Regions from separate parts of the Homo sapiens genome. Here region 1 is linked to region 2. Evidence: fine-mapped expression QTL. Tissue or cell type: whole blood. Region 2 holds a variant in brackets; the other region holds the start of a gene. All regions are shown on one strand. Distances are from middle to middle.

Region 1 (4,230 bases), 320 kb before region 2:
CCCAGCTAAGTTTTTGTATTTAGTAGAGACCGGGTTTCACCATGTTGGTCTGGCTGGTCTTAAACTCCTGACCTCAGGTGATCCATTTGCCTGGGCCTCCCAAAGTGCTGGGAATACAGGCCTGAGCCACCATGCCTGGCACCTGTAACACTTTTCTCTTGAAAACTGCATTCTCTACATTCCCTTTCCTCACCAACTAACAGAGGAAGAGGCTGGGTTCTTAGGAGTGCTAGGCTGGGCCAAGAGCACCCAGAGTACAGGGCTGGTTCCTGATCCAGAATGGGTGCTCTGGGATTGTGGGCTGGATCTGAATGAATGGTGGTTAGACAAGAAACTGAGGCCCAGCATGGACACTGGGTGGTCTGCCCCAGGGCCCCCAGGTGGGAGAGTGTCAATGATGTCCCAGGTTCACCACAGCTGAGCCCCTGGGGACATGCAGGGGGCTAAGGCAGGTTAGGGAGATCCCACTGCACTCTAGTAATCCTGCAATGTTATGGTGAGTGCTATCTACAGTGCGCCGGGGCTGACTGGGCTGGGTGGCCCAGACAAATGGGCCCCTGCCCTCGTGGAGACCAGGACCAAGAGAAAGCCGTGTGACCAGAGTCAGATTGGGTGATTCTGGCCACCCCACTGGTATGGACATCACAAGGCCCTTCTGGGGACTGACGGAGGAGGTTCAAGGGTGCTGAACCCACAGCTGGTCCCCAGCGCAATTTCTAGTCCTTAGGGTTTGAAGCCTTGGACCAGCCTGAGACAAAACCCAGATGACCATCTTGGCTCCTCTCCCGCTGACCACCTCTGTCCCCTTCTGGCCTCCATTTCCGTTGTCGTGGGATCAGATGATATAAAAGGGCTTGGTCAGCTGTAATAGACCCAGAGGCCTGTAGGCAATGAGTACAGCAATTTCAGGATTCTTAATGTTTCCTTTCCTACCAGCCTCCCAGTCACACCTCTCACCTGCCCAGAGTTCAACCCTAATTAGTGTTGAGCATCTCAGTGGGAACTCCTGGTCCAGGCAGGAGTGCCCTGGGGCCTCAAATCCTAGTCCAAGGGTAAACGGAGGAAGGGCTATCCTCATCTTGCCACCAAAGGGTGAGGCAGGAACACAGTGGACCTGGGCCCCCGCTGCACACCGAAGATGGTTGGAGCCTGGAAGGTGTGGTAAAGAGCGAGGAGGCGACCCCAGTCAGCAGATGGGAGGGAAATGCCCACTGCGGGTCACAGGTCTTGGACGTGTCTGAAGCCTCTATTCCTGGCGCAAGCGCCCCAACACTGTCGGGGCTTGGAAGGAATTCTCCAAATTCCCTTATTCCAGGAAAAAATATTCCAGAATCCCCTGTCTATTCCCAGCCCAAACTTGGGATACCAAGTCTCCTGGGGTCCAACCCCAGCCTCTCGCTCCTCCTTTCCTGCGCCCTTCCCCTTTCCGTCCCCACCCCATACCACCCTCTTCCGAACAGATCTCCCGCGGTGCCCCCTGCGGGACGGAACCTCAGTGCCGCCCCCTCCCGGGCGGCCCCACGACCCGCCCTCTCGGGCCCCAGCGGGGGGCACGACCCCGGGCTCCCGGGACCCCCTCCTCTCGGGACTGGACCTCGCCCTCCGCCGGGACCGGGGGAGGCGGGGAGGGGCCGCAGGCAGCGGCGCTCCCGCCCTGCGGCCGCTCCCGCCCCGCTCCTTCCCTCCCCGCCGGCCTGCGCCCCGCCCGCCGCTCGGCCGGCCCCTCCCGCGCCGCTCCCGCCGTCCGCTCTCCGCGCCCGCTCGGCCTCCGCCGCCCAAACTTTTCTCCGGGCGCGCGTCCCCGGCGGCCGCCCCCGGCATGGGCACCGCGCCGCAGGGGGCCTGACCCGCCGCCCGCTCCGCCCCCGCCTGCCATGGCGGCCCGCGCGCCCCCCGCCGCACCTGCGGCCGAGGAGCCGGGGAACCCGGGCGGCCCCCCGCGCAGGAAGAAGTCCCGCTCCGGCGCGTCCGGCCTCCGCCGCGCCTTCAGCTGGCTGCGGGGCAAGCGGCGCAAGAAGAAGGCGGCGGGGGCCGAGGGCGCCGAACCGGCCGCCCCCCGGGCCAAGAAGGCGGAGGACAAGGCCAAGAGGGCCAAGGGCAAAGGCCGAGGTAAGGCGGTCGGCACCTGGGCTGAGCGCGGGGGGGCGTCGAGGGTGCGGCCGAGGGGGCTCTGCCGGGGGTCCGCGCGCGGCGTGTTGGAGGGGGGTGACCCCCAGGAGCTGGTGCTGGAAAGCGAAGAGGCCAGGGCTGAGTCCGAACACTTCCACCCTGCGCTGCCTTCCGCAGTTTCCAGACCCAGTCCTGCCCCGCTGTGAGGGGAGGGGACCCCCGGCTGGGGCAGGGATCCCCTGGCAGAGCAGGAAGTGCTGGTAGCCCGACTCCAGGGCGGTGAGGCGATTCCCCCTCCCCCAGGCTCACCGAGGTTCTGCCCTCTGCTGAGTCAGGGGGTCAGAGACTTAACGCTGGCCTGTGGCCAATGGGAGAGACAGGTGGCCTTGGGTCTCTGGTGGGGACCCTCTGGGTCTGGAAGGTCAACCGCACTCACAAAGAGTTTCAGCTCCAGCTGGATCTGGATTTCCAGCCCCACAAAGGACCTCACATGGAGCACAGTGTGCCCTGCCTTAGCTTCTTAACAGTGCTGGCTTTTCCCACCTGGCCTCCCTCAACGCTCACCTGGGCCAGGCCACAAACATCACCTCCTGGGGTAGTGAGCTCACCAAGGTGAACCAACCCGCCCCTCCCTATCACTCCTTCTTCCAGCCCTGGAGAAACATGCCAGTGTCGGAAGTGTGCTTACAGATGGGGGAAACTGAGGCCCAAGCTCAGTGGAGAGGCTGTACCTGGGCTGGGGTGGGTACTTAAAATTCAACAGCTAATTCTCAGTCTTTCTGAATTTGAGTCCCTGGGCTCCTCCTCTGGCCTGGACGGGCAGCCTGAAAGGCGGGGAAGCCGACCTGGCCCATCCCTGCTGGGGTCATTTTCAGTTCCTTTCTTGGGCCTTCCCTCATTTTCCAGTTTCTGTCTTCCTTTTGATGGGGAGGGCTTGAGTCTTTGCAAGAGGGTGGAGCTCCCTTGGGGCTTGCTGTCCTGGGAAGTCCACCTTTCCTAGACTGCTGCTGCAGTGCTGGAGGTGAGGAAATGGCTGGGTGTGCGGGCCCATCCCATTCTGCCTGTGTTTACCCTCCCAGTGTCCTTTAACCACCTCTTCTGGGAGAGTTAGAAGGAACACTTTAGGGGTCAGGAAGAGGGTGGAAAGCCTCATGTGTGATTGTATCCGGCTTGATCTTCCTTTTGGATAAGGGCCCTGCTTCCCTGCGGCACAGCCACACATAGAAGTGAGGGTGCTGGGGCTGGGGTGACTGGGCCAAACCCTGAGGGAGGACTGGATTTGGGTGAGGGGTGTTTCCAAAGCCTCTGCAGTCCTAACAGGACATGGAGTCTGTCCCAGGGCTGCCCCACTGGGATTCAGTCTGAAGTCATCCCCGTCTCATTCAAGAGGGCATTGCAGCAGGATGTATTGTGGTCAGACTGTCAGGATTGGCAGGCAGAAGGCTAGTGGACTAGCAGTGTATACTCCAGGGCAATGGACCTTTTTCCTCTGGGAGACCAGCCTGGAAGGCAGGGGGCTGGAAAAGCTGAGCCTGTAGGTCACTGCTCCAACAGCCTGGGTTTGGGTTCATTGGGTCAGTGGCCAGGCCTCCCTCTTGCCTTGTGTTTGGTATCAGGTGGCTCTGGGCTTTCTGGGCAGCATGTCGGCCTGATTTGAGCCCACGTGCATGGGTAACACCTCCTTGCCCCTGGCTGTTGTTTCTCCAGGTCTGGAGGTGGCCCTGGGTATGACTGGAGGAAGTCCTGTTCCCTTTTACTCCAGCCTCCTATTATTGCAACTGTTTCCTTGTCACCTGCCTGGCCCAACTTCTTTTCTGTTTATTAAGAGAAATAAATCTGATCCCACTAATCTCCACTGGCAACGCTGGCCAGGAACGGGAAGCCTGCAGAAGGCTTAACTCTTTCAGGGAGAATGTTCAGAATGGAGATTGGGAGAGGTGGGGAGGAGGGATACACAGGAGATTCCTGGGAGGTCAGGGATCTTTGCTGGGGAAGTCATTATCTCCTCCATTCCAATCTCTGGCTCAAAGACCTATGAGAGGCAGGTCTTGATTCCTCTAATCTGACTCTCCTACTTTAAGATGGAAAAACTGAGCTTGTCATGGAGTTTTGAGCACCAGT
Region 2 (4,230 bases):
AGGAGGTGGACGTTGCAGTGAGCCAAGATTGCACCATTGCACTCCAGCCTGGGCAACAGAGGGAGATTCTGTCTCAAAAAGAAAAAAGAAACATCAGAGGTAACAATGGCAAAATTGAGAGCTCATAATTTTGTTTTGGGTCAACCCCACAATGGCTAGAGGCTACATAAAGCAGTGTCATAGATGGGCCCATTGAGAACCTAGGCAGCCCGAGAGGATGTCACAGAAGAGCTCTGAGAGCAGTAGCTGACCCATGATAGGGTCTGATGAAAGCACCATGCCACTTACTCGCTATGACCCTGGGTTACCCCATTTATTTATTCATTCAATAGGTATTTATGGACCATCTGCTGTGTGCCAAGCACTGCTTTAAGGGCTTGGGATATATCAGTAAACAAAAAGTTCAAAGATTCCTGTCCTTAGGGAGCTTAAATTACAAACAGATTTAACCTATAAATTTTAAAGTATCCTAGAAAGTGAAAGGTGTTGTCGAAGAAGAAAAAGTAGAGAGTGGTAAGAGGATTAAGAGTGACAGCAGTGCACAGAAAGGCAGGTTGAAATTTTAAAGGGGTGATTGGGTAGGCCTCCTTGAGAAGGTGACATTTGAACAAAGACTTGCAGGAAGTGAGGGTGTGCTTTGTGCAGAGTGAGCCATGGGAATATCTGGAGGAAACATGTGAGGAAAAGAAAGAGAGATCAGACTGTTACTGTGTCTATGTAGAAAGAAGTAGACATAAGAGACTCCATTTTGTTCTGTACTAAGAAAAATTCTTCTGCCTTGAGATGCTGTTAATCTGTAACCCTACCCCCAACCCTGTGCTCGCAGAGACATGTGCTGTGTTGACTCAAGGTTTAATGGATTTAGGGCTATGCAGGATGTGCTTTGTTAAACAAGTGCTTGAAGGCAGTATGCTTGTTAAAAGTCATCACCACTCTCTAATCTCAAGTACCCAAGGACACAATACACTGCAGAAGGCTGCAAGGACCTCTGCCTAGGAAAGCCAGGTATTGTCCAAGGTTTCTCCCCATGTGATAGTCTGAGAGATGGCCTCGTAAGAAGGGAAAGACCTGACTGTCCCCCAGCCCAACACCCATAAAAGGTCTGTGCTGAGGAGGATTAGTAAACGAGGAAGGCCTCTTTGCAGTTGAGATAAGAGGAAGGCATCTGTCTCCTGCTCATCCCTGGGTAATGGAATGTCTCGGTGTAAAACCCGATTGTATGTTTCATCTACTGAGATAACAGAAAAACCTCCTTAAGGCTGGAGGTGAGACATGCTGGTGGCAATACTGCTCTTTAATGCACCAGATATGTTTATGTATGTGCACATCAAAGCACAGCACCTTTTCTAACCTTGTTTATGACACAGAGACATTTGTTCACATGTTTTCCTGCTGACCCTCTCCCCACTATTACCCTATTGTCCTGCCACATCCCCCTCTCTGAGATGGTAGAGATAATGATCAGTAAATACTGAGGGAACTCAGAGACCAGTGCCGGAGCAGGTCCTCCGTATGCTGAGTGCTGGTCCCCTAGGCCCACTTTTCTTTCTCTATACTTTGTCTCTGTGTCTCTTTCTTTTCTCAGTCTCTTGTCCCACCTGACAAGAAACACCCACAGGTGTGGAGGGGCAGGCCACCCCTTCATCTGGCGCCCAACGTGGGGCTTTTCTCTAGGGTGAAGGTACGCTCGAGCGTGGTCATTGAGGACAAGTCAATGAGAGATTCCCGAGTAAGTCTACAGTCAGCCTTGTGGTAAGCTTGTGTGCTCGGAAGAACCTAGGGTAACAATGGGGCAAACTAAAAGTAAATATGCCTTTTAGCTCTATTAAAATTATTTCAAAAACAGGGGGAGTTAGAGTCTCTACAAAAACTCTAATCATGCTATTTCAAACAATAGAACAATTCTGTCCATGGTTTCTAGAACAAGGAACTTTAGATCTAAAAGATTGGGAAAAAATTGGCAAAGAATTAAAACAAGCAAGTAGGGAGGGTAAAATCATCCCACTTACAATATGGAATGATTGGGTCATTATTAAAGTAGCTTTAGAACTGTTTCAAACAGAAGAAGATAGCATTTCA[G/A]TTTCTGATGCCCCTGAAAGCTGTGTAATAGATTGTGAAGAAGAGGCAGGGATAGAATCCCGAAAAGGAATGGAAAGTTCACATTGTAAATATGTAGCAGAGCCGGTAATGGCTCGGTCAACACAAAATGTTGACTATAATCAATTACAGGAGGTGATATATACTGAAACGTTAAAATTAGAAGAAAAAGGAACCTTAGATGTAGACCTGTTAAAACAGGGAAGGGTCTGAGTAACCATGGAAAATATGGTCACTCTATTCAGGGTGTTGGAAAAATACTGTCCTTGGTTTCCTGAAAAAGGAACCGTATATGTAAAAGTATGGGATCGTGTTGGTTCAACATTCTGGGAGCTGGTCCCAGCAGGGAATTATGTTCCCGTCACTGTTTGGGGTGATTAGGCCTTGGAACGTGCCATCCTAATACCTCCTCAACTTTCCTCTCCCACACGGCCTTCATTATCTGATCAGCCTCTTCCTTCGGCTACTCCTCCCCCACCTAACGATGCTGAAAATTCAATGTCTAACTCTGGTGACTTTGGCTTAAAGTTACCCCCTACTTATCTTCTTTTCATGAAGAACTGGTACTTGAAGCTCCCGCGGCCATGACTCACACAGCCCAGGACCATAGATATGCTAATTCTTGTCTCTTCAAATGGCTCCAGGACCAAACTACAATTTACCTATAATTCTCCAGGCCCTCCCCCATCCACTACAGCCCCTCACCCTCCTGTCGTTTCGGTTCCTCAACCGGTCTGTGTCGATATGCACTGCTCAATCTTACTTTTTTTAAAAGAATTTAAGGATGCTTGTACTCAGTCAGTATGGTCCTACTTCTCCTTATGTTAAAATGGTATTACAAACTTTTTGTATGGAGGTCACTTTACTTCCTTTAGACTTGGACCTTTTGGCAAAAAGCTGTTCTAACCCCATCTCAGCCTGGTGGGCAGAGGAGGCCCATGTTCAGGCTCAGCTAAATCAGACTAATGGCATTCTAACTACTCAGGCTCAGCTCACAGGCTCCAATAGTTTCTCTGATACTTAAGCCCAAGTAGGCTTTGATGCTCCTACCACAAAACAAGTAACAAAGGTGTGTATGAGAGCTTGGGATAAATTACGTGCCCCAGGCCAAGCTCCTGTTTCTTTTACTACTGTTAAACAGGCTCAATTGCTTTTACTACCTAATATCGTTTTAAACAAAGGAGATAAGACACGTGGCTCTGGGATAGACTCTGGTGGTAAAAAGGCTGCTTATTGGATTAATACAATTTCTAAACAACGGCCCACCTTCACCATACACATTCAAGGAAAAAAGTTTTGAGGGCCTAGTAGATACTGAGGCTAAAATTAATATTCCATATAACTCTTATAGTGTTCCCGGTCGGCATATGATGAAAAACATGGGTTTGTTCCTGGGCTAGGTCTCGGTCCGAAGCATGAAGGGATTATTAAACCCCTCCCAATTACTATAAAATAAGACAGTAATGGTTTAGATTATCCTTTTTAGTGGTGGCCACTGCCATGCCTCCTGATCCTATCCCTTTACAATGGAAATCTGACACACCTGTTTGGATTCAGCAGTGGCTGCTTTCTAAAGAAAATCTGGAGGCTTTAATTCAATTGGTTTCTGAACAGTTACAACTTGGAAATGTGGAACCTTCTCTTTCCCCCTGGAATTCTCCTATGTTTCTAGTAAAAAAGAAATCAGGCAAGTGGCGTATGGTAACCAATTTATGGGCCATTGACGCTGTAATTAAACCTATGGGAGCTGTCCAACCCAGCATGCCTGCCCCTGCTTTAATACCTAAAAATTGGTCTCTCATAGTTATTGGTCTTAAAGATTGTTTTTTCATATTGCTTTACATAAATCGGATTGTAAAAAATTTGCTTTTACTGTACCATCTATCAATAATCAGGAGCCTGCAGCTCATTATCAATGGAAAGTACTTCCTCAGGGAATGCTGAATAGCCCTACAATCTGCCAGCTTTATGTCGGACAAGTGCTTTCACTAGTTCGAGCCCAATTTCCCCAGGCCTATATTCTTCATTATATTGATGATATTTTAATTGCTACCCCAACTAATAAAGAATTAATTGACTGTTATCAAATTTTAAGCCGCTGTGTTACAGAGGCTGGATTACACATCACTCAGG

Evidence for each region. PIP is the estimated chance that this variant, and not a neighbour inherited with it, causes the effect.
Region 1: NHSL3 starts here. The variant in region 2 is the best candidate, but not a certain one, in a credible set for the expression of NHSL3 in whole blood (TOPMed, PIP 0.50).

Annotation. Positions count from the first base shown.
Region 1 is chr1:32,740,081-32,744,310 of GRCh38, forward strand. NHSL3 (NHS like 3) reads left to right here and starts at 1,750. Exons shown (of 7, transcript NM_020888.3): 1 at 1,750-2,109. The coding sequence starts at 1,875.
Region 2 is chr1:33,062,841-33,067,070 of GRCh38, forward strand. No RefSeq gene overlaps it. Among named protein-coding and RNA genes, the nearest start is that of AZIN2, 16 kb to the right of the region's middle. The variant G/A (reference allele first, on the strand shown) is at 2,080.